Homo sapiens: one gene and its partners. The protein of the gene in region 4 interacts with the protein of the main gene of each other region in a biochemical or structural test. Each region holds a gene or a part of one and is shown on either strand. Other genes may lie near its edges.

The links.
Region 1: the proteins of MYOC (region 4) and SPARCL1 form a complex in vitro, tested with the Homo sapiens proteins (one study listed by IntAct).
Region 2: the proteins of MYOC (region 4) and TKT interact in far-western blotting, tested with the Homo sapiens proteins (one study listed by BioGRID).
Region 3: the proteins of MYOC (region 4) and FBN1 form a complex in vitro, tested with the Homo sapiens proteins (one study listed by BioGRID).

The regions. Positions count from the first base shown.
Region 1 is NC_000004.12:87,519,369-87,526,393, reverse strand, and holds part of SPARCL1 (SPARC-like protein 1 isoform 1 precursor), read left to right. Parts: exon of another isoform or gene 1-1,041; intron 1,042-5,571; exon of another isoform or gene 5,572-6,173; intron 6,174-7,025.
Region 2 is NC_000003.12:53,253,023-53,260,790, reverse strand, and holds the start of TKT (transketolase), read left to right. Parts: upstream 1-4,768; 5' UTR 4,769-4,848; coding exon 4,849-4,955; intron 4,956-7,768. UniProt on the Homo sapiens protein: Catalyzes the transfer of a two-carbon ketol group from a ketose donor to an aldose acceptor, via a covalent intermediate with the cofactor thiamine pyrophosphate.
Region 3 is NC_000015.10:48,481,710-48,488,734, reverse strand, and holds part of FBN1 (fibrillin-1 isoform a preproprotein), read left to right. Parts: intron 1-241; coding exon 242-367; intron 368-493; coding exon 494-622; intron 623-1,297; coding exon 1,298-1,423; intron 1,424-1,534; coding exon 1,535-1,660; intron 1,661-3,238; coding exon 3,239-3,361; intron 3,362-4,791; coding exon 4,792-4,917; intron 4,918-6,954; coding exon 6,955-7,025.
Region 4 is NC_000001.11:171,635,679-171,642,703, reverse strand, and holds part of MYOC (myocilin precursor), read left to right. Parts: intron 1-3,981; coding exon 3,982-4,107; intron 4,108-5,994; coding exon 5,995-6,779; 3' UTR 6,780-7,025. UniProt on the Homo sapiens protein: Secreted glycoprotein regulating the activation of different signaling pathways in adjacent cells to control different processes including cell adhesion, cell-matrix adhesion, cytoskeleton organization and cell migration.

The DNA of each region.
Region 1 (7,025 bases), on a different chromosome or scaffold from region 4:
CAGTGAGGCCTCTGTTACATACTTGCAATGATTTCTCTGGTAGTAACAATGGAGATCAAGAAGGAAATATTCTTTGAATTGCCTTTTTTATCCAAAGAAATGTAAAAGTAAATCGGACACTACTATTTTCCCCTGGTGGGGGGCCTCAACACGAGGTATTTATTACTATGAGACTTCACTGCTGCATCAGTTAGTAGCTTCTTAATGGCCAAGTCAAAGGAAACCAAAGAAAGTGTTCTATGCCAGCTTGCCATTACACAGAGTGAGAAGAAATGCTGCTTTGCTGTCAATTCTGTTTTATTGGCCCACTTGGACAAGAGGGAAAGCCCCCAACATTTCTTCTTTCTTATCTCTTCTAAAGGCAAGAATAGGGCTTTTGACTTGCTCCAGGGGATATTTTTTCCTCTCTAACTGAAATTCAAGTGAAAGAGTCTTTTTTTTGTTTTTTTGTCTTTGTTTGGTGTTTTTGTAAACCTCTCCCCTATGTTCCTAGCATTGAAATGTAAGCTGCTTTTTCTGGCTGCATGTAGCAGGAGCAGGCTGTCGTCATAGCAATGAAAGGGTGTAGAGAGACTCCTGCTTCATGACCTGCTCTGGGAAATAACTCTTAGTCTGCTTTAAAATCCTTCTTTAGAAATGAAGTCTCCAGTCCTGGCTTGTTTCCTTCCTATTACACAACCAACTTATGTACACCCATTGCAGTAGCTAAATGTTTCCTTTAAAGATTTAGTGAATAGGTATTTTAAAAATCAACAAGAGAGCTGCTAAAACAGTGGCTAGTTTACTGTGGCATACAGGGGAAAAACAACTGGGAAGGCAAAGAAAGAGAAATAGAAATGGCCTCACATGATACACATACTGCAGCAAACCCTGCAATAAATCCATTTTTCAAGTTCCCACTGCTTCCTCCCATCTTCACGATGTGCTATGGTGTAGTGGTTATAGAGGGGAATTCTGGGGCAGACTGCCTGGACTTGAATCCTGGCACTCATACCTTCTAGTTGTTTTAATCTAATCCATTCTGTGCCTCTGTCTTCTCATCTGTGAAATAGATATAATAACAGTCATAAAATTGTCATGGGAATTGAATGAGATTGAGCATGTAAGGCATTTATTACAGTATCTAACCCATGGTAAAGGTTGGCTGCTAAGCTCAGGAGCCTCAGTTTCCCCCACTTGTGAAATGTGGATAACAGCTAATTCATAAGATCATTGTATTTTTTTTTTTTTTGAGACAGAGTCTTGCTCTATTGCCCAGGCTAGAGTGCAGTGACATGACCTCAGCTCACTGCAACCTCCACCACCTGAGTTCAAGTGATTCTTGTGCCTCAGCCTCCTGAGTAGCTGGGACTACAGGCATGTACTACCATGCCTGGCTGATTTTTGTTGTTTTAGTAGAGATGGGGTTTTGTCATGTTGGCCAGGCTGGTCTCAAACTCCAGGCCTCAAGTGATCTGCTTGCCTCAGGCTCCCAAGGTGCTGGGATTACAGGTGTGAGCCACCATGCCAAGATGATCATTGTATGATTAACTAAAATAATGAATGTACATGCTCAATAAGTAGTAGTTATTACAATTCTTTTTCATGGTTTTGTTATTGAAACAGCAAGGTTCCAGTCTAGGTCCTGCTGCTCACTTCGTAGAAAGCCAATCACTGAGACAACAAGTATTGCCAATGAAGAAGGCTTTAATCAGGTGCTGCAGCTGAGGAGATGGGAGCACAGTCTCAAATCCATCTCACTAACTGACTTAAACTAGGGGTTTACATAGCAAGGGAAAAATGTAACAATGTGTAAGAAAATAAGAACTAGGTAGGGGTAAGGAAACAATCATGGTGAATAAGCGGTCAGGCATCTGCTGCAGTGATCTGGTGAGTTTCCATTCTTTTATACTTTTTTAGAAGCCTGAAGGTCCTGTCCTGAGGAAGGAACTTAGATAAAACAAATATAAGTTTCACACTTTAAGACCAGGAGGGTCAACTTCTATGTTTTTCAAAAAGATCTGTCTGTGGGACTATTGGGTAAGTTTCAGTTTGATCTAACTCTGACATGAATGGCCTTTTTGAACTTAGAATTCCCAGTGAGTCAAATATAATGAATAGAGGCCTCAGAATTATCATTGCATAAATGTGAACCATTTGATTTCTACAGGGGGAAAAAAAAGAATTGTGACTTTTTACATTTATAAAGACTCATCTCATCTTGATTAACACCAGGGTAAAAAGTATTAAAACATCTTATCTTTCATTAACTTTTTATTACGTTTCTGTTTCAGTTCCTCCAGTGTTTTCTAGGTCATGCAATTATGAAAATAAGTTAGCATTTTTATCTTACATCTCAAACAACTAATGTATTCAGTGTTCTATCCCATGCAAAATTCCAGAAATGCAGCAAGGAGCAAAACTAGAGAGGGGCTGAGCTCTTGTGGTGCTTACTATGTAGTTATGAAAATGGTCATTAATCAAACCATCACAATAATGAAAACTGCATAGGACCAAACATAAGGTGCCCCCAAATACAATGCCATCTTCATCTTTCTAGTGAGAACATCCTCAACCAAAGTGTTTGGCCAAACAGCATGTACAAATGGGTAATATATTGTAATGTACACTTGGGATATTTAATCTATGGTTCACATACATATTTAATATGTTACTTTAATTTAAATATTTTATACTTATTAACATGACTTTTTCCTTTCTCACATTTCATGAAACAATTTTGTTAAAACTCTTCATACGCATCTTTAACACCAATGTGTATGTTCACTGGATCCACGCTGTAATTATCTAATACAGAGCACATCATCAATCCTTCTGCAAGTTGCTAAACATCTGCTGATGCTGCAAATTTAATCCCCAGGCATTAGTCCTCACTCGTGGTCATGTTCTCCACACTTTCATTACTGACTAGATTGTTTTTCCAGTGCTTTTTAAAGGGCGTATTTAAAAACCACTTGAAACTGTAAGTGTGGCTTTCTAAAACTATGTGATTCCAACTTGCAATAATGAAGTCATACCTCAGGAATAATGACTAAACCTGCTTTAAATATCTTTATCTATTTTTTCATCCATTTTGTCAAGGTGACCTTCCTAAGAATAAAAATAAGCATTGCTTGAGATTTTTTTTTTTTTTGAGACAGAGTCTCATTCTGTCACCCAGGCTGGAGTGCAGTGGTGTGACCTTGGGTCCCTGCAACCTCTACCTCCTGGGCTGGAGCAATTCTTCTGCCTCAGCCTCCTGAGTGGCTAGGATTACAGGTGTGCACCACCACGCCTGGCTAATTTTTTGTACTTTTAGTAGAGACAGGGTTTTGCCATGTTGGCTAGGCTGGTCTTGAACTCCTGACCTCAGGTGATCACCCACCTCGGCCTCCCAGAGTGCTGGGATTACAGGCATGAGCCACTGTGCCCAGCTCTTGAGATGATTTCTAATTGTTTTTTTGAATAGTACTTTGCTGCTCAAAATGAAGAAACTTTGGAAGCACTTGAATATAAGTCAAATCCCTCTTTTTTACGGCAGGATTTGGTGGCGTGAGAAAAAACACATTTTATTTGAACACATGCCATATATAATGATACACTGAAATAAGTGTTATGAAGGCAAAACACCTTTGTTCCAAGAGAGTATATAAGGATCCTGACCTCCACTCAGGATCAATAATGGCTTTCCTTGATCTGAAGTCTGAATAGAGGTTAACTCTGTGTGTGTGCGTGTGTGTGTGTGTGTGTGTGTGTGTGTGTGTGTGTGTGTGTTTGGTGGTGGTGGCTGGGAGGAGCGGGTGCTGGAGAGAGAATTCTGACAGCGTGAACACTTGTGCAAAGACCCTGGAGCAAGAGGGATCGTGGCCTATTTGAGGCACTGAGAGGCAGCCAGCTCCCGAGAGCAAGGGCAGAGCAGTGGAAGATGTAAATCTCCATAATACTCCCTTCCCTGAGCACTAAATGTATGTGCCCTTTGCTTGATTCAGGTTTAATGTATACTTTTAACGTCTGGATGGATTTCTGGTTAGTCTCAAAGCCCCAACAGGCATGACCATGTCTATCCCTAGCTCAGACTCTTATGGTGGTAGGTTCAATTAGGAAGGATGATGGGCAGTTGAAGGTCAGATGCCCAGAAAAGTCTTAAGTCATTGACTCTGAGTATATCATATACACTCACAGGGCTGGGACACCTTGATGTCAGATGGTGACTCAGCAGAGAACTCAAAATAGAAGAACGTCTTTTTCACCCTTCAGATGACTTTAGGGCCAAACCATAGAGCTCTCCCCAGAGACTCATTAATACTTTAAAAGCTCTAAAGCATCAGTGTTAACACTGGATCAGGTAACAGCACGTATATGTTAGCCAAAATATGACTAAGAGATTTGCTCTCTGATAACAAGGCCTTTGACTATTATGTAAAAACAAGGTGAACAGGAACGTTCTGAGTCTGTTTATAAAGTACCTATAATAATTGTTTTGTTTACTACATTTCCCAGAAAGGAAATTTTTCCATAGTTGTAATAATTGCTAAAAATAGCAGTCTACAGGCTTCCTCTGATATAAACAAATTCAACAGAAGATACCTGGCCTTATTTGGATGCATGGATGTACATACTCCAGGAAATGATAGGCCAAGAGTAATAAGAAAAAGAAAGTAACAAGACAAACCTCTCCTTTTTCTAGTACACATGGTATGTCTTTCTTAGTTCATTAAACTTTAGACAAAGTGATAAACAGATCAAGTTGTCATCATCTGCCTTGAAACCCAAAAATATTGAAACAAGTTCCCTAGGCCCAGAAGGGAAGGAAGAGGACTTGTAAATTTTGCTGAGGCTGCCACAGAAGGAGCTAACCACTGGAGGGTTCAGACTGGAGGGTTCAGAAACCAGGGGAATGCTAGGCAACACAAGGAAAATTCAATTAGAAAGACTTGAAGCAATAACTACCAGCACTAAAATTTCCAGGGAGTCACTGATGTGGCCAATATGAAAGAGGAATCCTGTTCCTCCTTTCAGAGGTATGGATGACTGCGTTTACAGTCTGGTTCAGTGTTCAGACAGCTTATTAATGCTTAAGAGAAAAGGAAAGAGAAGGAAGATAGAAAGAAGAAGTACAGCAAGGCAAGAAGTGCCCAGGGGAGCAGGTGTGCTAAGTTGATTTAAGTGGCATGGCAATATACAGAACTTCAAAAATAAAATTTATCTTTTAAAATTTAAATGTAAATTAATGTTCTAAAAAACTATAGGAACTGAAAATAAATCAAATACAAATATCTACTTCGACCTAATCTTACTGTAATTTAAGTTTCTAGGAAATATCATAGAAACTGAAGTGGAACCAATTACAGAAAAAGAATGCAAAATAAACCATAGTACCGAAAATAAAAACATATTCTGGTCGTTTGTGTAGGTTCCCTAATAAATCTAGACGGAGAATGATGTTTTTGTGTTTTAGTGTATGCCAAACTTTAGACACCCTCCTCTTTTCTAGGAGATACAAATTTCAGGAGCGATATTTAGCTATTACACACATAGCTTTTCATCAGAGATGGGGGTAGCTGACACACACATGGCCCATTCTGCCCATACCTTTCAGGTCAATCTCTGATGGCTTGGCTGGGCTGTTTCCAGCTAGCAGAAAGGATATTCAGGCCCCTTTTCCTTGCTTTTCCAGGGACAGAGCTTGTAGAGTGCTGAGAAATCCAATTACAACTTCCTTTCATGGTGAAATCCAATTACAACCTCTCCCATGGTGAAAGCCAATCTTTTTGATACAAAAGGAAACTAAACAAAAGGGCTTCAGGCAGGGGATATGCTTGTGCTCTGCCTTCTCACTTTGACAATTATGCAGGAAGGTTGCAATGACCTTGGCTTGCCTTGCTTAGGAACAAAAGTCATAATCTTCTACCCCCTACTCCCACAAAAAGGAAAAACGTTTTCATATCTGATTCCAGGAGTTTGGGGAGTTTCCTCAAGGATCCATTAGTCAGGCAAAGCAAATTTTGAGCCAACACTTGCTCCCTCCCACACACTTTTTTTTCCGGCAAGATGACTTTTCTTATTGAACTTGGAATGCCATGTTAAATGATAAATAAATTAGTGAATTATTTAGGCCAATATCCTCCCATAATCTGTTCCCAACAACTTTTTTTTTTTTTTTTTTTTGAGACAGTGTCTGGCTCTGTCACCCAGGCTAGAGTACAGTGTGCAGTGGTGCAATCTCGGCTCACTGCAACCTCCGCCTACCCAGCTCAAGTGATTCTCCTGCCTCAGCCTCCTGAGTAGCTGGGACTACAGGCACCTGTCACCACGCCTGGCTAGTTTTTGTATTTTTAGTAGAGATGAGGTTTCACCATGTTGGCTGGGCTGGTCTTGAACTTCTGGCCTCAAGTGATCCACCCACCTCGGCCTCCCAAAGTGCTGGGATTACAGGTGTGAGCCACCGTGCCTGGCCTGTTTCTGCTACCTTTGTGATATCCAATGCTGTGTGTCACCCTTTCAGCCAACCTGTTTGCTTGAGGTTAGTGAGACTGTAGTACTGCTTGGAGAGGGGTCATCCTAAATTCCTAAAACCTGGTTGAGATAAACGGAAACAGTTCTCAAAACAGTAATTTATGAAAATAGATATTTTATGAGTACTTGACACAAGTCTATAATTGCTGAGATATTTAAAAATAAAATTACTAACCACATTCTATTCAAATCTCTGTCACTTCTGTATAATCACTGTACTCCACTGAATGTGTGTAAAATATGTATTTGCAGCTTATAGGGAAAAAAATTTGCAAATTTTCAGAAGAATCATGCAGTCAACTAATAGGTTCTTAGTTGAAGATTAGTGGAGTGGGGAGTGGTAAATGGTTATCTTTTTCAAAACTTAGGACAAACTTTACACTAGGTTCAAATAAAAGTGCTATGGCTACAGAGTTAATGAACCCACCATTCAAAGTGGCCCTAAATAGCTCTGAAAGCAAAGCATTTTTACATTATTTGATTCAACTTGAGTTATCTAATTGCCTATATAATATGATAGGGACCCAGGC
Region 2 (7,768 bases), on a different chromosome or scaffold from region 4:
GGCCGAGGCAAGAGGATCACTTGAGCCCAGGAGTTCAAAACTAGCCTGGGCAACATAGCATGAGACCTTATCTCTTAACAACAACAAACGTGAGAGGGTGTGTGAGCATTGTCTGTGAGTGTCAGTGTGTGTGTGTGCCAAACAGTTCCTGCAATCTGGGATTCGTCATGCCCGGCCCAAGTGCAGCCCCCTCTGGGTCCCCAAAGTACAGGGGACATGAAGAGGTGGGACATGACTTCCTGACACTGCCAGTCTCTTATGCAAGGTGCCCCTGCCCAGTATGGCTAGACCGGTCCTGGCATTTCAGGCTGAAGGGCAATTCAGAACTCTCTGCTTCACATTCCACTCTAGGCAGCCAGTACAATCCATCAGCACTGCCTTGGTGATCAAAGCCATTGCCCAGGAACAATACTGGGTGGCATGGCACCCCTCAGGACCCCAACCCCCCTCAGGTCCCTTTTAGTGATACTGGAGATCCCTGGGGAGTGGCTGTGGGGGACTCTTACGTGGGGACTCACACTGTTCTGGCTCCTCTAAGGGTGACCTTCTCCCTAGTGCTGCACGGGTCCTGGGGGACAGCTCAGATTCCAGAATGTGGCTCTGCTCTCAGGTCACTGTGGCCTCTGCTGGCACCTGATGCCGGCAGTAGGACATTTCTGCCACTTCCTACCCTCCAACAGAGCACCTTTGTGTCTCGGTTTCTGGAAAGGCCGGAATGAAGGACACCAGTCTGAATGGCCAGATTCCCTCCCCTGAGGCCTCCCTGATGCCCTCTTGGCTTGGGTGCAGCCCTGGCACTTGCTGACTCTGTGTCCTCAGGCACATCACTTGACATTCATGCTTTCATTCTGCAGGCATTCATTGAGCCCCTATTGTATATGAGACCCAGTTGTAGTCCCTGCGGATAGAGCCAGGGACAAGAGATTGTATTCCGGCTCTCCGGGAGCTGACCAAAGATCATGCAGATAGGCAGAGAGCCCTGCAGAGACCAAGACAGGCAGTGTGATGGGCAGCATGGCTCTAGATCCAGGCCATGTGAGGAGCCTCAGGAAGGGCTCTGCTGGCTCAGGGAGCAGCCTGTGCAAAACCTCTAGGAGGGAGTGGGCTTGGTATTTTTTAAGGAATGCGAGGTCAGTGTGGCTGAGATGGGTAGGGCTGGGGGACCTGAATTATATCCAAAGGGTGGAGGAAGAACAACATGGGAGTTAAGCTGGGGAGGAACACTTCTCTGGCAGCCATGGGGAGGGTGAACAGGAGGCTGAGAGAGGATGGGGTGTGAGGGCAGCAGGGAGCCAGATGTTAGCTGGAAGCCAGACAGGATCCCAGGGCTTTCTTCCAAGTGCCATGTGACTTCTGAGGCGTGAGGGTTCGAATAAAGACCCTGGGACCTGGGGACAAGGGAACCACCCTGGACAAACTGGGTGCTAGCAACACCTCCAGCTAGCCTAGGATTCTGGTTCTGAAGCTGACCTTCAGGAAGACCAAGAGCTCTTGAAATAAGGCTGAACCCTTGGGCCCTGTGAAAGGGAAAACACTCAAACTCTGTTTTTCCTCTGTTCTCACACCACAACAATTAACACAAAAGACTCCTGTGATCAAATGTGTGGGGGTTTCTCCCCATGCACCAAGCAAGCAACCAATTCTGCAGCAACACCAGCTGGGTGTCCTCCAACTCTATTCCATTCTGATGCTAATTACCTGGAGATAGCCTCAGAAACCACAGGTTAAGGATTCAGTCCCCCAAGAGCACCTCCTCCTTCCCATGAGTCGCAAGATTGGGACTGACCAGCTTCAAGTTGGGGTTCCCACCACTCCCTCTTTGGGTTCAATTAATTTGCTAGCGCAGCTCTCAAAACTCAGGAAAGCACATTTATCGGTTAGTTACAAAGGATATTTTAAAGGAGACAAAGAAACAGTTAGGCAAAGAGATACATAGGCGGAGGCCTGGAAAGGTCCCTAGTGAAGGAGCCATTGTCTCCATGGAGCTGGAATGTTCCACCCTCCCAGCACGTGGATGAGTTCTTGTTCACCTTCCTGTGAGCCTCCACGTGTTCCGCTGTCCAGAAGCTCCTGAACCCTGTCCTCTTGAGCCTTTCATGGACATTTCATTGGACAGACATGATTGACAACCTTGTGGAAATGTGATTAGACCAAAAGTATATGATCTAATACTAACTGACTGAGTGGGGAAACCCCGCAAGACCTGTGTGTCCTGACTCTTCTTGACCTCTCTGTGAAGCTCACTGTCTGGTAAAAGGGCAGACTCTTGAAACCTTTTGAAAACTCTGTGCCATCCAACTCTGTGGCCCTTAGGACAGTGGCTCCCTAAGGGAGTGGCCTCAATTTCCCCATCTGCCTAACGGGACTCATCCTTATCACTCTGCACCCACTCTGGTCTTCCCTCCTCATGGGTATGGGACAGAACCCCTTCTCATGGGGGTCTAATGACCTACAATTACACGAGGTAGGTGAGAGAACTTACTTATGGCCAGCTCCAAGACAGACCGGCAGGAGAAGATCCTGCCATGGGGAGAGAAAGGAGCAGGTGAAAGGAAGGTAGGAGAAGGCCTGAGAGACTCTGTTTCTGGGGTCTGCTCCTGAGGTCTAAAGCACCCCAGTGGTATAACAAGGGTTGGGGGCAGTTCTAAGCCAGGGGCCTGTATATGCATATCATAGTATCACAGGCCCCATTCATGTGGAACACCAGGAGGAGAGAGAGCCTCCCTGAGGTCCCTGGAGCTCCAGGTGGTGGGGAGGGGACAATTTTCTTTCCATTACTCCTAGGTCCCCAGAGCCATGGTGAGTTCTGTGCCATTGTCAGAGACCAGAGTGATAAGGATGAGTCCCATTAGGCAGATGGGGAAATGGAGTCCACTCCCTTAGGGAGCCACTGCTCTAAGGGCCACAGAGTTGGAAGGCACAGAGCTTTCAAAGGGTTTCAAGGGTTTGCCCTTTTTCCAGACAGTGAGCAGCTTGAGGGCAGAGGTGGCACCTGCCAGGCATCTGAGGGTGGCACACTGTGGGGCCCCCCTCCAATCCTAGCCCATAGCCCTCACCAGCCAGACACCATAGGGCCAGCCTCTGCGGGCTGGGCCAGCAGGAGCCAGGTGCTATGGGATGCCATACTTAGGGTCTGATTGGGCATCTGGGGGTCAGGCCAGCAGAGGAGCACCTGGAGGCGAGCTGGGGGACTCACTCAAATTCAGTCAATCGCCTCATGAGCCAGAGCTCTCTGAGTATGGGCAATGCAGGGAGGACACAGAGGACACAGGGCGGCCACTGGTGCCTCTTGGATCTCTCAGGGTTTTAGCTCCCTGCCCAGCCATCCGTTTGAGGGTCTTGCCTTTATCTTTCCTCTGTCAAATGGAGCTTCTTCCTCTGTAAAATAGGCATTGTAGGCAGTATGTACCTCACTGGCCAAGTGTGGTGGGCAGATTGAATGAAACAGTGTCTGTGATGAAAGTCCCCTCCCTAATCCCACTCTGGGGAGCTTCATACCTCTGGGAACCATGGGGTCTGATAACAGTAGTGGTGGGTGCCCCTGTCCCTACAGACCTGGAAGCAAACCCAATAATCTCCCTAAAAGTCAGTAGTGTTTCTAGGCCCTAATAATTTGTAAAGGATCTTCCCCTAGTAATTTCTCAGTTATCATCACCTGGCATTGTCATGGCTACCACTATCCTATTCTCATTTTCAATAATCCCCATCCCCTGTGCAGGGCTCTAAAGCCCTGAGTGGCTGGGCATGGTGGCTCATACCTATAATCCGGCACTTTGGGAGGCAGAGGAGGGCAGATGGCTTGAGCCTAGGAGTTCAAGACCTGCCTGGGTAAAGTGGCAAAACCCCATCTCTACAAAACATACAAAAATTAGCCGGGCGTGGTAGTGTGTACCTATGGTCCCAGCTACTTTTGAGGCTGAGGCAGAAGGATCACTTGAGCCCAGGAGGCTGAGGCTTCAGGCAGCTGTAATCACTCCACTGCATTCCAGCCTGGGTGACCATGGGTGACCCCGTCTCAAAGAAAAAACAAGTTTTTTAATTATTAGAAAAAAGAAATAGGGCCTGGTGCGGTGGCTCACCCCTGTAACCCCAGCACTTTGGGAGGCCGAGGCGGATCACCTGAGGTCGGGAGTTCAAGATCAGCCTGACCAACATGGAGAAACCCCGTCTCTACTAAAAATACAAAATTAGCTAGGTGTGGTGGCGCATGCTTGTAATCCCAGCTACTAGGGAGGCTGAGGCAGGAGAATTGCTTGAACTCAGGAGGCGGAGGTTGTGGTGAGCCAAGATCATGCCATTGCACTCCAGCCTGGGCAACAACAGCGAAACTCAGTCTCAAAATTAAGTCCTGCAGTCTCTTGGGCCTGGGGTTGGTCGGCTGGGGCCAAGCCTGGCACCCACCAGCCTTGTGACCTTGATTGCCCTTGCCAAGCCTCAGTTTGTCCATCTCTAAAATGGGATTCGCCGTGACAAGTCCACGGAGGACTGTGTGGAGGAGGGAGACTGAGAGGCTTTCGAGTCAGGAGCCCAGACTCGAATCCTGAGTTGTTCGTTATGTTATTATTATTGGTGTGTGTGGTTAACTGCTAACCTCGCAGTCCGCAGCGGCCCAGCGCCTAGGGGAGGGGAGCGGGCAGGAGGCGGCCCCAGGCGGGGCGGGGCTGAAGGCCTGGGGTGATCCGAGCCCCGCCTCCTCCCCCTGCCCCGCCTCTCCCATCCCCGCCCCGCCCCGCCCGGCGACTTAACGCGCCCCCGCCCCGCGCCCGGCCTCGGCAGCCGCCTGTCGCCGCGGGAGCAGCCGCTATCTCTGTGTGTCCGCGTGTGCGCCCGGTCCCCGCCTGCCGCACCATGGAGAGCTACCACAAGCCTGACCAGCAGAAGCTGCAGGCCTTGAAGGACACGGCCAACCGCCTACGTATCAGCTCCATCCAGGCCACCACTGCGGCGGGCTCTGGGTGAGTGCGCGGCGCCGGCCGGGGACGCGGCTCGGGCGGGGCGGGGGGCGTCTGCGGCGGCCAGAGTCGCCGCGGGCTCTGGGTCGCGCTGCGAGATGCCTAGACGAGGAAGGTGGCCCGGGCGCCGTCGGAGGGCGGAGACGCGCGCCTCGCAGGGCCCCGGGCTGCAGGCGGCTTCCGCTGCGCCGCACACTCGCCCTACGCCCGGGCTCGGCCGCGTGGGCCTCTGGTCCTCCGTGCGCCTCAGGCCGGCTCTTCCCCACGCGGATCGCCGGCCGCGCAGCTGCATGGTGGCGCGGGGGATGGGCTCGCGACTCGCCAAGTACCCTCTAGGGTGATGCCGGGAAGGCCACCATTACTGCTGTTCTACAGAACGCGGCCCTCTTAACCCTCTCCACCACCTGGCTGTGTGGGCGCCGCCGGGAGTGTTCCCCCTTCCAGATGGGGAAACGGAGGCTCCGAGTTAGTCAGCTACCCAAAGTTACACACAGGGAGATCTGATTTGAGCCCCAGCAGTCCGACTCTAGAGACCCTGTTTTTAATTCCTCTTGCAGGAGACTCGGGGGCCCGGCCTTCTCCCCACCTCAGACTACGCTCCCCTACCCCTGTCTCCTGCCACCCCTGGGTTGGGTCCGAGTTTGGAGCAGGGGGCTGCTGAGACGCCAGGCAGCGGCGGGGCTGATTGGGGGAAGAGGGGAGGAGGGCGGTGGCACGTGGGTGCAGAACCCTGGGATCCATTGTGAAAAGGAGGTCTAAGATTTGACCTGGGGCGGGAGGAGGCGGAGGGCAAGGAGACTGAGAAGGCTGAGCGCCGGAAGGACGGAGTTCCAGGGCCCTAGCGCCGGGAGTGACGTCCTGGGGCAGGGCCAGCCACCAGGTGCTGTATCTCCCAGGCAGGAGCTGGCGTGCCTAGGCCCCAAGATCCTTCCCTGGCCAGCCCTTTTGGCCCAGAAGGTGGACACCCAAGGAGCCTCCTCTGTAGCGGAGACAGGGATAATTAATGAGGGCCACCGTGCATGCAGCTGGAGGTGTCCAGTGGGGTGGGTGAGGGGGTCAGTCAGTGAATTACTTCAGAGCCTGCTTCCCGCTCTGTAAAGCGGGGACAGTAATGGCACTTAACCACGCTGGGTGGTTTCAAGGACTCCAGTGCTCTACTTGGAGGCTGCTTTGAGGCCACAGTGCCAGCAGTGCTCCGGGCTCATGACAGGGTTGTGAGGGCTGCGTGATGGATGATTTCTCGGGACCTTCCCAAACAAGCTCTGTTTCAGACAGACAAGATTCTGGCTTCTGGCCAATTTCATTCAGGATATATTATTAAGAAGTAAATCTGTTCACCTTTCTGGGTGGATACGCATTCACCCTTTGTGCCTCTAAGACACCCTGTTCTCAGAAGGGATTAGATGTCTTTCAAAGCCCTTCCCCCACCCACTGCCTTGCACACTTTGGACCTGTTAGCTCTCCTGGGTTTGTGTCAGTCTTACCACTTATGTGGGGTATCCCCTGCCTGGGCAGGGACCTGGCTTACTCTCAGCTCCCCTTTCACCAGCCTGGCACACGGTAGCTCTGCAGGCCTTGTATTGCTTATTTGGTACTGTTGGACCTGCTACCTTTGGCCGTTTCAGGGGGTCTGAGGTCTAGCTGGAGAGAGGCAGCAATTACCCAACTAAGTAGTATTGCACATCTGAGCATCTTTCAGGGCTAGATAAAACATGCAGATGTTTACAGGGTTCCTGAGCTGCCAAGTAGGTATCTGGTATGACACAGCATCATCGTTTGTTGCATCCTGAGAATAACCCTGTGAGATAGATTGTGTTGTATTCACATTTTATAGACGGGAACACTGAGGCTAGTGTGTTAAGTTACTTGCCCAGGCTGGGAATTGGTGGCCATTCCGTACTGTCTGGTTGGGGCTCATGCTGTCAGGAATGCTTCTTGGCAGGGCATGGTGGTTCATGCCTGTAATCACAGCACTTTGGGAGGCCAAGGTGGGAGGATTGCTTGAGCCCAGGAGTTCCAGACCAACCTGGGCAACACAGTGAGACCCCATAGCTTAAAAAAAAAATTTTTTTTTTGAGATGGAGTCTTGCTCTATCGCCCAGGCTAGAGTGCAGCAGCACAATCTTGGCTCACTGCAACCTCTGCCTCCCAGGTTCAACTGATTCTCCTGCCCTAGCCTCCTGAGTAGCTGGGACTACAGGCATCCGCCACCGCACCGGCTAATTTTTGTATTTTTAGTAGAGATGGGGTTTCACCATCTTGGCCAGGCTGGTCTCTTGACCTCAGGTGATCCACCCACCTCGGCCTCCCGAAGTGCTGGGATTACGAGTGTGAACCACTGCCCCCGGCCAAACATTTTTTTTAATTGGCTAGGTGTGGTGATGTGTACCTGTAGTCCCAGCTACATGGGAGGCTGAGGCAGAGGATCACTTGAGCCCAGGAAGTTGAGGCTGTAGTGAGCCTTGAACATGCCACACACTGCAGCATGGGTGACAGAGTGAGACTGTGTCTCAAAAGAAAGAAAGAGAGAGAGAGAGAAAGAAAGAAAGGCCAAGAAAAGAAAAATAGTTGGGCATGGTGTTACATGTATGCCAGCACTTTGGGAGGCCAAGGCAGAAGGTTCGCTTGAGGCCAGGAGTTCAAGACCAGCCTGGGTAACATTAGCAAGACCCTGTCTCCAAAAATAAATAATGTTTCGGCCAGGCGCAGTGACTCATCCCTTTAATCCCAGCACTTTGGGAGGTGTAGGCGAGTGGATCACCTGAAGGTCAGGAGATCGAGACCAGCTTGGCCAACATGGTGAAACCCTGTCCCTA
Region 3 (7,025 bases), on a different chromosome or scaffold from region 4:
AGTCTGAATAGACACATTATTTGCTTCTTTAACAATGCTTTATAAAATGTAGAAATTTGAAAGGCTAGAAATGTTTACAAAGTCATATATCTCATGGATCATCACACATTCTTGGAAATGTATACTGCCAAGACCTTAAATCAAGAACTTCCAACCTTCATGATTTAAAATGGTGGGCATTGAGACCTCCTGACTGCTTGCTCATAAACTTATTTTGCCCCACATTTTCTTATTCTTGAAGATATCAATGAGTGCAAGATGATACCCAGCCTCTGCACCCACGGCAAGTGCAGAAACACCATTGGCAGCTTTAAGTGCAGGTGTGACAGCGGCTTTGCTCTTGATTCTGAAGAAAGGAACTGCACAGGTCAGTTAATGAGCCTTAAGGGCCAGGAGAGGGGACGTCCTTTAAAACTCTTTATCTTTAACATATTGTCGCAAGAATTAAGGCTGTCCTGAGACTCATTTGCTGCCACTTGCTGTTTTTGTGCAGACATTGACGAATGCCGCATATCTCCTGACCTCTGTGGCAGAGGCCAGTGTGTGAACACCCCTGGGGACTTTGAATGCAAGTGTGACGAAGGCTATGAAAGTGGATTCATGATGATGAAGAACTGCATGGGTAAGTTTGGGATCATTTGATCAACACAGAAAGAGAAGGATTCCATGAAGCTTTGATGGCTCATAGCCTATGTTCCAGGTTCTTCCTGCTGCCCCAGTGCAACCAGTGAAGTTAGGAATCAGTCTGCAACAGAGGGAGACTGAGGTAGAAAGAATGAGGGAATTCATGCTGTGGGTTTGTGGGTGATGGCGGAGACCAGTTGTGGGCCCTTGAGAAGTGATTTTAACACCTGAAATGGATACCCAGGCGGAAGAGAGGACAATTGAGACAGAAGCTGTAGTAGAGGTCCCTTTACAAGATGTCTGTCCAACACTTCTAGAAAAGGTGATTGGTAAACTTGTTGCTTTAGGTCTGGTTTCCTAGAAACAAAGTTTGAAATGGAGATTCTTGCAAAAGTGGTATTTCTTACTGTGAGCAAATTCTCTCAGAAGGTACTTGTCAGGAAGTAAGGAGAGCAGGGTAGTGCAGGAGAAGAAAATAAACCAAGAGTTTGGCTGCATTTTGGTTTTAGTCTGATCCTGCAGGGAGATCTGGTGTATGAATAGCACCAGAGAGTTGTCCCACCTTGAGACAAGGAGGTCAAGATGGACACCCAGCAATGGGTGGGGGAGGAGTGCTTGGTCTGGTGGAGGAGATGAGGCCCCCACCTTTAACATGGTCATTTCCATTTTGCAGATATTGATGAGTGTCAGAGAGATCCTCTCCTATGCCGAGGTGGTGTTTGCCATAACACAGAGGGAAGTTACCGCTGTGAATGCCCGCCTGGCCATCAGCTGTCCCCCAACATCTCCGCGTGTATCGGTAAGGAGAAAGACTTTCACACCATTTACTTGTGGTCAGTTGTTTGAATGACATCATTGCCAAAGTTGGAAGCTTATGTTTGGGTGTTTGTTCTTCTTATTTTCCCGACAGACATCAATGAATGTGAGCTGAGTGCACACCTGTGCCCCAATGGCCGTTGCGTGAACCTCATAGGGAAGTATCAGTGTGCCTGCAACCCTGGCTACCATTCAACTCCCGATAGGCTATTTTGTGTTGGTAAGTTCTTTTTTATTTTATTTTATTTTATTTTATTTTACTTTATTTTATGTTATGTTATGTTATGTTATTTTATTTTATTTTATTTCATCTCTCCCTAAAACACTCTATGTACTCTGAGTTTTGTTTTCATCGCTACTTTTACTTATCTTTCTTGTTTCCCTGCAATATTCTTTTTATAGTGGCTCACGATCTTTGGATCTCATCTCCATTATCTGTTTAAAGAGCCAGTTAAGTGAAGGACATAGGATGTTTTAGCTCTAATAAGCATAATTTGACCCATGCCGTTTGGATAGGGAACAGTAGCAGCATGTGCTTTGTCTACACACATGCATACCAATGCACATTAACAAATGGTAACTAACCACCTGAAATAAACTAAACACGGTGAGTGCTGTGGAAAAGAGCAGAAAGCTGAGTTGAAATCACTGCCCTTATGTGGTTTAGATCAGCTAAAAGATTTCAAAAAAATAACTATTGGAAAGAAGACCATGGAATGTTCATATCTTACACTGCAATTGAGGCTATGCCTGGCTCTCCTTAAAGATGGGTTTTTGTGGGACAAGAATTTTGCTTTGTGGTCAGCCCTCTGTAGGTTTAGTCGTGCTGTGAAGAGTGGCACAGACAGTCCTGTGGCTTTATTGTGCCCCGAGTCAAAGTGAAACTTTGTAGAAACTGCCAGTTTTTGCCTGGTTTGGGGTGTACACCATGTGGAACTGCCAAGTCTCACATGGTTTCCACCCAAAACCATAAATCAGCCCAAAGTTTTCTGAAACATGGCCCAGGACAACTCAGAACTTCAACTCAGGTTATTGAAAAAGATTGGAACCTCAGCCAATCAAACTGAATTTCAAGTTTATAAGTGAATCTGTGGCCAAGAGAATTTCATCCACGTGCCTATTATCATAACTGAGATGTGTTCTCCTAGCACCCAATACTTCTCCTGCATTGCAAATGGCACATCATGCATGGTGCAATTAATTGTTCATCTGTCTCCTGGCCACAGTGTAATCATTTTGAAGTCAAAGATTGTGTCTGTCCCATTCACTATTAGAGTCTCATCTCTAGCATATAGTAGGTATGTCATTAACATTTGTTGAAGGAATCAGTGACTCAGTTGCCCTAGAATGCTTTTTCCCCTTTATTTGACGTATGCCTGGAAATGTTAAAAATGTGCCATGCTCATAAACACAGAGGGAGGTGTGTTAGCCCATTTTTGTGATACTGTAATAGAATACCTGAAACTGGGTGATTTATAATGAATAGAAATTATTAGTTCACAGTTCTGGAGGGTGGGAAATCCAATATCAAGAAGCCAGGATTTTGCATGGTCCTTCTTCCTACGTTATCCCATTGAAGAAAGCACGAGGGTGAAAGAGAGCAAGAGGGGGCTGAACTTGATCTTTTATAACAGCACCGATCCCACCATGAGGGTAGAGCCCTCATAGGATGATTACCTCTTTTAAAGGCCCTGCCTCTTAAATAGTGTTACAATGGCAGTTAAATTTCAACACGAGTATTGGAGGGGACAGACATCCAAACCATATCAGAAGGTGATATTATTTTCATTTCTTTTAGACATTGATGAATGCAGCATAATGAATGGTGGTTGTGAAACCTTCTGCACAAACTCTGAAGGCAGCTATGAATGTAGCTGTCAGCCGGGATTTGCACTAATGCCTGACCAGAGATCATGCACCGGTGAGTAGGTTCTAGCCTCATGTTGAATCTCTCAGTAGGTTCCTAAGTAAAGTAGTTTAGGGCCCAGGCTTTGGAGTCAAGCAGGCTTGAGTCCAAACCCTTGTTTGTCATATATTTTAACTGTATCCTTAATCAAGATACCTATTATTAGAATCCTCATCTATAAAATGAAGTTCAAATTGCCTGCATAAAATAGTATTTACAGAGCTTACCATAGTACCTGGCATATAATAAATGGAATATAAAATACATTTTCCTTCATTGACCAGACTTTTGAAGAGTTTGATGTTTTGGCCTAATTCAGTGCAACTCCAGGTTTATTCCTTGAACCATTGGCAACAGCATCACCTGAGAACTTGTTAAAAAAATGTAAAATCTCAGGCCCCATTCCAGATCTACCGTATCAGAAACTACTGAGGTAGATCCCAGGAATTTGTTTTCACAATCTCTCCAAATGATTTGGATGCATGCTAAAGTTTGAGAACCAGTGGTCTAATTTACACTTCCTTTTGTATCACCCTGGCTGCGAGAGCTGTGAGCCAGGTAGAGGTGAGAAACAAAGTGGGTAATAACATAGGCTTTGATTTTGGCTTGGCTTAAGAAGAGAATTTGGATTTAGGAACCAAAATTATTTTACTGACCTAGAAAAATGTCCCTTAAAAAATCTAGATATAAATTTGGCTACAAAAATTGTTGAAAATAAGGCCAGGCACGGTGGCTTACACTTGTAATCCCAGCACTGTGGGAGGCTGAGGCAGGCAGATCACCTGAGTTCAGGAGTTCAAGACCAGCCTGACCAACATGGTGAAACCCCATTTCTACTAAAAATACAAAATTAGTTGGGTGTGGTGGCACATGCCTGTAATCCCAGCTACTTGGGAGGCTGAGGCAGGAGAATCGCTTGAACCTGGGAGGCGGTGGTTGCAGTGAGCCAAGATCGCGCCATTGCACTCCAGCCTGGTGACAGAGTGAGACTCTGTCTCAAAAAAAAAAAAAAATTGTTGAAAGTAAATATTATTACTAAGAGCATCTAAGTAGGTATGGTTATTTCAAGTAATTCTTACCTTAAAATATTGCTAAAACAGTTGATAGAATTCAGGCATTTATAATTTGACAATAGGGAAAATAAGATTTATAATAATTTTTGAATGATAAATTAAATGAAAGAAAGATTTTAAATAAATAATAGACTTTTAAGCAGGTGTGGACGTTGCCCTTGAGCAGTATATTATAAATATTGAAAAATATTTTTTCCTTTTTTACCAAGGATAACCCAATGGGCTAGTTTATGCAAAGCTTCATTTGGATTTGAGAGTTAATAGTCTTATGCTAGTAGGCTAAGTTTATTTGACTGCGGTCAGTTAATGTTTTCTCACTGAACAGTGGAACCAATATCAACAACCTGTGGTTGTTGGTTTTATTCTTTGCAGACATCGATGAGTGTGAAGATAATCCCAATATCTGTGATGGTGGTCAGTGCACAAATATCCCTGGAGAGTACAGGTGCTTGTGTTATGATGGATTCATGGCATCTGAAGACATGAAGACTTGTGTAGGTAAGCAAAGAAGACAGAATTTTTCATCTTGTCTTGTTAGTCATAAGCACTGTTAAATTACATAAAGTTAGTTTGGGTCAGTGATAGAAAGATTCCATAGGAAAAGTAAGGATATTTAGAGGCACAATACTCATATTTTAACCAGCATTCCAAAGAGAGCTTTCTTGTGGCTATTAAATGGTACTCTTGTCAGATATGTTATGAGGACTGACTGGCCATTCGTCAGCTCCAGATGGACATTTCTTTTATGCCTATCCATTACTTTTGTCCACTTAACCCTCCTTCTGCTTTGACTATCATGTAGGCTTTTTAAATCCTTGACTAAAGGCAAACAAAATTTACTTCTGACAAGAATGCAGTAAACTTTAGAACTGATCTATTTGTTTTGTATAGTTTCTATTGTTATGCCTTCAAATTTGATAAACTTTTCTTCTACGATCTCTAATCTGCCTTTCCTCACATACAGTGTATTTTTCATCTCAGATGTTGTAGTTTTCACCTCTAAAAGTTCGACTTGGGTATTTTTTCATATATTCTGTGTCTCTGCATAAGTTCAATCATTCCTCTAGCTGTTTGAACACATGGAATACAGTTATAACAACTTTTAGTGTCTTTGTCTCCTAATTCTGTCATCTGCATTGGTTCTAGGTCATTTGAATAAATTGACTTTCTTCCTTATTTTAGGTCATATTTTCCTGCTTCATTGAGTGACTGGTAATTTTTGATTGGATACCAGATAGTGTAAATTGTGCCTTACTGAGTGCTAGATATTTTTGTATTCCTAGAAATATTTTTGAACTTTGTTCTGAAGTGTAAATTACTTGGAAACACATGGATCCCTTTCAAAGTCTTGCTTTTAAGCTTTTAAGCTACACTTAGTCTAGGGGTAATTTTGCTCTGTTAGTGAGGTAAGACCCTTCTGGATATTCTACCCAATTCCCTGTGAATTATGAGGCTTTCCAGTCAGGCTGGTGGGAACAGGCACAATCCCAGACCCCCTGTGAACTTTGAGGATTGTTCCCTCTCATTTTCTTGGGTAGTGCTTTCCCCAGCCTTGAGTAGTTTGTTTCCTTATATGAATGTGCTGGTCACTACTCATCTGAATACTTGCAGAAGACTCTTAGCAAATCTCTGGCATTGCTTTCTTCTGTGTAGCTCTCTCCTGTCCTTTACTCTGCCCTATGAACCCTAACTACCTCAGCCTTCCAGGATGCCCAGATTCATCTCCTCAACTCAAGGACAGTGCCTGGCTCCATCTGGTACCTCCTCCTTATGCCATGAAGTTAAAACTCTCCTATTCAGTAATCTCGGGCAATTGTAGGATTCACCTAGTTTTTCTTTCTCTCAGGGATCACTGTCTTTTGTTGCCTAATGTCCAATGTCTAGAAAACCACTTTTTAAGGTATCTATTGTCTATTTTTTTTGGTTGTTTCATCTGAGAATATAATTTTAATTCCTGTTATTCTATCTTGGCCAGAAGCAAGAGTCTGGTATTGATTATATTTACATTTTTATCACATTTATCTTCTGAAAGCCTTTACTGAAAATGTTTGAAGTCCTAGAATTAAAATGAATGTCATAAAAAATGAATAATTTTTAATTTGGAAAAGAAGTGAAGTCTTAAACTACTTACACTAAGACAACCAGTTCATCTATCCTTTCTTTCAAAATATGAAAACTAAATTGTTATCATCATGCAGACTGAATTAAACTTTTCATCCTGCAATAGAGTATGCTGTTCTAAAAAGTTTTCTAGACTGTCACATAAACGAGCTCTAAACTCAGCATGGAGCCCATCTGTTTATTTGATTAACTGGCCTGCTGCTTATGGGCCAGATGAAAGCCAGTCTGAATAATGAGCTTGCAATGTAAAGAATGAAGAGCAAATGTAAATTGGCCTCTAAAATTTAACATTGTTTTTCTGAGGGAAAGCATTTTACCTTTTCTAATGTATTTGTCATAGTTATTATGTCTCGAGGGGAAAGTACTCAATGATATCAAATAGCTACATATATTAATAGTATATATGTTTTACAGATGTCAATGAGTGTGACCTGAATCCAAATATCTGCCTAAGTGGGACCTGTGAAAACACGAAAGGCTCATTT
Region 4 (7,025 bases):
CCTGGAGTTTGGAATGCACATTGAGGATGTCCTCAGTTACATATACATTTTGGCTTATGAGTCTTTCTTTTTTTAATTTTTTTTTTTTTTAAGACAGGGTCTCACTCTGTCACCCAGACTGGAGTGCAGTGGCATGATCATGGCTCACTGCAGCCTTGCCCTCTTGGACTCAAGAGTCATCTTCCTGCCTCAGCCTCCCGAGTAGCTGAGACCACAGACTGCACCACCACACCCAGCTAACTCTTTAATTTTTTGTAAAGATGGGGTCTCGCTATGTTGCCCAGCCTGGTCCCAAACTCTTGGCCTCATGCAATCCTGCCACCTCGGCCTCCCAAAGTGCTGGGTTTACAGGCATGAGCCACTGCGCCTGGCCAGCTTATGGGTTTTAACTACTTACATGGTGCACTCTAGACTGAGGGATATCCCAGGGATGGAGGACCCACCCACCTCCAGGGCATTAACACTTTTAGGGAGGCTAACAACTGCAGCCACACAGAGGCAGGGGTGGAGAGGAGAGAAGGGTAGCTGGGATCAGGGGCAGGCAGCTGCAGCAGCTACTGAGCTGGCTCACTGTGGGCAGCATGGCTGTCTGGCCCAGCCTGCACCTGAGAGCTAGCTGAATGTTTTCTTCACCTCCTTCCAGGGAGAAATTTTTTCCAGTACTATAATTTGTTGAAGCTGAACCCCAGCAACTCAAACAAGGTACCCTGACTCTGGAGATGTGAAAATGTAAAATAATGTGTGGCTTTGATGAAATGTGGTAGAACCAGAGGATTAAGACTTCTGTGGTGATCCTCTCTGCCTGAAATCTAAATTTAGGAGAGCTGAGCAAACAAATGATCAAAGGCAGAACATGTCTTCCCGACCCTCTCGGCTGTGTAGGCGCTCCGGCCTCAGGGGATGCACTGACTTTCCTCCCACTGTCCTGAACACCTGAGAATCCTGAGCGGGGAACAAGTTGCTCAAAGGGCAGAGAAGTGACTCAGAGGTTCAGCAAGAGAAAAGCCCAGTGTATTAAGCATGTCTTTTTATTCTGATGCTTTGCTGTCTGGGCCTTGCAAACGTGAGAGGGACTGCCCCTCCCAGGGGTAGCCAGTTCCTACGGTTAGCAAAGGACTCACCTGGGAGGACAGCTTTCATATGCAAACCAACCAATCCAGAGCCCACACCCTGTGACCACCTCCATCTGGCTCAAACTCAAGGCCACTGTCCCCCTGACCTAATCACCCAGGGCCTGGTACCAGACAATTAGAGATAACTCCTGTGACCCCAGATCCTGCTGAAATTATTCAAACTCCCCAATCCTAAACCTGCTTACCCTGCCTCCCCTTTCTTTCCTTCCCATGGAAAGAATAAAGGCGCTTTCCCACATTTTCCCCTGGTGCCCTCTTCTGGAGCAACCCTGGTGCTTCCCCAGGTGGCCTCCTGGGCTTAGTGTGCCCCCTTCCTCTTGGGCTCTGTGAGTACAACAACTTGTAAAGATAATTTTTTTTTAGAGCAGTTTTATGTTCACAGCCAAATTGAGAGAAAAGTACAAACAGTTCCCAGATACTACTGGCCCCCACACATGCACAGCCTCCCCGATTATCATCATCTCCCGCCACAGCAGTTGTTACAACTGATGAACCTGCATCAGCACGCACAACACCCAAGGTCCACGGTTTAAATTAGGGTTCATTTTTGGTGTTGCGCCTTCTATGGGTTTAGACAAATGCATAGTGACATGTGTCCACCATTATAGTATCATACACAGTATTCATTGCCCTAAAAATCGTCTGTGCCTCACCTAGTCATCCCTTCCTCACCCAACAACTGCTGATCTTTTTACTGTCTCCATAATTTTGCTTTAACTTGCTTTTCAGTGACAATTGCCTCCTGGGATGTTGGCCTTGCCACACCTGAATAATCATCAAACCTGCATTTTATTTGTTTTTATGTGTATGTGATGGGTTTTTTGGGAGGTTGGAGGGGAGGACAGGGTCTCACTCTACGCCAGGGCTGGAGTGCAGAGGTACGATCACTGCTCACCACAGCCTTGACCTCCCGGTCTCAAGTGATCCTCCCACCTCAGCCTCCCAAGTAGCTGGGACTGCAGGTACACATCACCACCCAGGCTAACTTTTTGTAGTTTTTGTAGAGATGGGATTTCACCATGTTGCCCAGGTTTGTCTTGAACTCCTGGGCTCCAGTGATCTGTCTACCTTGGCTTCCCAAAGTGCTGGGATTACAGGTATGAGCCACTGGGCCTGGCCAAACTGCATTTTAAAATAGCCAAGCCTGTTCCTTGTGACTATTGCCTCATCCTTGTATTCAAGACTGCTGTAAGATCATAATCCTAAGCAAGAGTAGAGACATGTAGCACACCATGATCACTTACTGTCTAACCAATGCTGCCCACCCGCTTCCCTTCTGTATGGCTCACCACCCCCACCCCAAACTCCTATAGGAACTCTGCACACACTCCCTCTCCATTATGCAAAACTGGTCTCAGAAAGGAATCAGACAGAATATTTCTACTGAAAGTATAAAGCTTAATATGTTACTTCTTACAAGAATATTTGCATATAACAAGGGAAAAAACCTTAAGTCATGCAGTAAACTTTTATCTTTTTTTTTTTTTTAACAGGAGTCTCCCTATGTTGCCCAAGCTGGTCTTGAACACCTGGGCTCAAGTACTCCTCCTGTCTTGGCCTCCCAAAGTGCTGGGATTACAGACATGAGCCACACTTCTTTTTTTTTTTTTTTTTTTTTTTTTTTCTTGAGACAGAGTCTTGCTCTGTTGCCCAGACTGGAGTACAGTTGCACAATCCCGGCTCCCTGCAACCTTTGCCTCCTGGGTTCAAGTGATCCTCAACCTCCTGAGTATCTGGAACTACAGGCATGTGCCACCACACCCTGCTAATTCTTGTATTTCTAGTAAAGATGGAATTTCACCACGCTGGCCAGGCTAGTCTTGAACTCCTGGCCTTAAGTGATCCGCCTGCCTCGGCCTCCCAAAGTGCTGGGATTTCAGTGTGAGCCACTGTGCCCGGTCTCTTTTTTTTTTTTTTTGAGACCTTGAGACCGGGCCTTGCTCTGTTACCCAAGCTGGAGTGCAGTGGCAGGATCATAGCTCACTGCAGCCTTGAACTTCTGGGCTCAAGCAATCCTCCCACATCAGCCTCCCAAGTACCTAGGACTGCAGATGCTTACCACCATGCCCAGCTAATTTTTCATGAATTTTTAATTATTGAAATTCAGACATCTAAGAAGATGCTGAGGACTGTCTCCATATTCCTGAAATTACGACTCACCTATTCACAAACCAGCCCTTCTAGTGGAATTAAAATATTATTTGATTTTGAATACCCTACTCTAAGGTAGGCACATTGCCCTGCAATTTATTATTTATGAGGTTTTTAATTATGGAATTGTTCAAATATTCACAAAAGTAGAGAGACTACAATGAACTCCAATGTAGCCATCACTCAGGCCCAACTGTTATCAGCACAGTCCAATCATGTTTTATCTTCCCTTCTCTGACCCCCAACCCATCCCCAGTCCTTATCTAAAATCAAATCTCAAACACCATATCTTTGGGAGCCTATTTATTTAGTTAGTTAGTTTTCAGACAGAGTTTCTTTCTTGTTGCCCAAGCTGGAGTACAATAGTGTAGTCTCGGCTCACAGCAATCTCCCCCTCCTTGGTTCAAGCAATTCTCCTGCCTCAGTCTCCCAAGAAGCTGGGATTATAGGCACCTGCCACCACATCCAGCTAATTCTTTTGTGTTTTTAGCAAAGACAGGGTTTCACCATGTTGGCCAGGCTGGTCTCGAACTCCTGACCTCAGGTGATCCGCCTGCCTCGGCCTCCCAAAGTGCTGGGATTACAGGCATGAGCCACCACGCCTGGCCGGCAGCCTATTTAAATGTCATCCTCAACATAGTCAATCCTTGGGCCATTTTTTCTTACAGTAAAATTTTGTCTCTTTCTTTTAATGCAGTTTCTACGTGGAATTTGGACACTTTGGCCTTCCAGGAACTGAAGTCCGAGCTAACTGAAGTTCCTGCTTCCCGAATTTTGAAGGAGAGCCCATCTGGCTATCTCAGGAGTGGAGAGGGAGACACCGGTATGAAGTTAAGTTTCTTCCCTTTTGTGCCCACGTGGTCTTTATTCATGTCTAGTGCTGTGTTCAGAGAATCAGTATAGGGTAAATGCCCACCCAAGGGGGAAATTAACTTCCCTGGGAGCAGAGGGAGGGGAGGAGAAGAGGAACAGAACTCTCTCTCTCTCTCTGTTCCCTTGTCAGAGCAGGTCTGCAGGAGTCAGCCTTTCCCTAACAAAGCCCTCTATCCTATCACCCACACTTGGGAGGCTGGGCTGGGCTGCACAGGGCAAGATGAGAGATGTGTTGATTTCATCCACTTGATTGTCATGTAGAATTAGATATACTTGAGAAGTTACATTTTTCAGTAGCGCCTTCATATCTTTATTTTAGGGACAGGTATACACCAAGCACCATCTCAGCCACAATCTGTTACTAACAGTATGTTTTCTGAACTTTGGCCACTTAGGAAAAGTACAGTTTGGCTCTCTCCAAAGTGTTCCCTGAAAGTCCAACTTTATGACTAATACTGTGATTTCCAGAAACTTTGACTATCCATGTTATTGACAATGATTACTAGCACTGAAGGGCATGCATGCAAGTAGGGGTTATGAAATATTTAAAACACGGTTCTCTAAGATATGAGCAGCAAAGTGTTTCTACCTTCTATGAGGGAACCGAAGGTGCCATTAAAAGTAGAGAAATCTGGACCAGGCATGGTGGCTCATGCCTGTAATCCCAGCACTTTGGGAGGCTGAGGCGGGCGGATCACTTGAGGTCAGGAGTTCAAGACCAGCCTGGCCAACATGGTGAAACACTGTCTCTACTAAAAATACAAAAATTAGCCAGGCATGGTGGCAGTCATCTGTAATCCCAGCTACTTGGGAGGCTGAGGCAGGAAAATTGCTTGAACCCAGGAGGCAGAGGTTGCAGTGAGCCGAGATCACACCACTGCCCTCCAGCCTGGGCGACAGAGTGAGACTCTGTCTCAAAAAAAAAAAAAATACAGACATCTGTTGTGATTCTGGTAACTCTAAATTTTCAACCGTCTCTTCACTACATTTAAAAAATTATTTTCTAAACCAAATTAGCCAGGTGTGGTAGCAGGCACCTGTAGTCCCAGCAACTCAGGAGGCTGAGATGGGAGGGGTGCTTGAGCCTGGAAGGTCGAGGCTGCAGTGCACTGTGATTGCACCACTGCACTCCAGCCTAGGTAACAGTGCAAGACCCTGTCTCAAAAAATAATTATTTTCATGTTTATTATATTAAAATGATGTATGAAATATGTGACTCATCAGGGCTTGAAAAACTTTGTTGTATGGAGATTATTCTTATGAGTTGATTTTTCTCTCTCCTACCTTATAGTAATGAAATAAACCAGGCATGAAAGTCACAATAAGTAATACAATGAACACCCATGGGTCCCTGCCCAGCTTAAGTAGAATATTACAAATGCAGTTGAAGCCCTCTGTGCAACTTTCATCCTTACAACTGATACTGAGTGAATTGTACTTTAAATATTTTATAGCTCCCACTCCCATGCATGCCCCTCAGTGATAGCAATAATTGTCAATAACATGAAACACAGATTGATCATATAGCATTTACCATATATTTACTCTATACCAAGCACTTAACATATATAATTACATTTAAAATTTACAACAGCCCTACTACCCAAAACACTATTAGTATCCCCTTTTACAAATGCGATAACTGAGGCGTAGAGAGCTAAGTAACTTACTGAAAGTCACACAGCCAGCGGGTGGTAGAGCCTAGCTTTAAACCCAGACGATTTGTCTCCAGGGCTGTCACATCTACTGGCTCTGCCAAGCTTCCGCATGATCATTGTCTGTGTTTGGAAAGATTATGGATTAAGTGGTGCTTCGTTTTCTTTTCTGAATTTACCAGGATGTGGAGAACTAGTTTGGGTAGGAGAGCCTCTCACGCTGAGAACAGCAGAAACAATTACTGGCAAGTATGGTGTGTGGATGCGAGACCCCAAGCCCACCTACCCCTACACCCAGGAGACCACGTGGAGAATCGACACAGTTGGCACGGATGTCCGCCAGGTTTTTGAGTATGACCTCATCAGCCAGTTTATGCAGGGCTACCCTTCTAAGGTTCACATACTGCCTAGGCCACTGGAAAGCACGGGTGCTGTGGTGTACTCGGGGAGCCTCTATTTCCAGGGCGCTGAGTCCAGAACTGTCATAAGATATGAGCTGAATACCGAGACAGTGAAGGCTGAGAAGGAAATCCCTGGAGCTGGCTACCACGGACAGTTCCCGTATTCTTGGGGTGGCTACACGGACATTGACTTGGCTGTGGATGAAGCAGGCCTCTGGGTCATTTACAGCACCGATGAGGCCAAAGGTGCCATTGTCCTCTCCAAACTGAACCCAGAGAATCTGGAACTCGAACAAACCTGGGAGACAAACATCCGTAAGCAGTCAGTCGCCAATGCCTTCATCATCTGTGGCACCTTGTACACCGTCAGCAGCTACACCTCAGCAGATGCTACCGTCAACTTTGCTTATGACACAGGCACAGGTATCAGCAAGACCCTGACCATCCCATTCAAGAACCGCTATAAGTACAGCAGCATGATTGACTACAACCCCCTGGAGAAGAAGCTCTTTGCCTGGGACAACTTGAACATGGTCACTTATGACATCAAGCTCTCCAAGATGTGAAAAGCCTCCAAGCTGTACAGGCAATGGCAGAAGGAGATGCTCAGGGCTCCTGGGGGGAGCAGGCTGAAGGGAGAGCCAGCCAGCCAGGGCCCAGGCAGCTTTGACTGCTTTCCAAGTTTTCATTAATCCAGAAGGATGAACATGGTCACCATCTAACTATTCAGGAATTGTAGTCTGAGGGCGTAGACAATTTCATATAATAAATATCCTTTATCTTCTGTCAGCATTTATGGGATGTTTAATGAC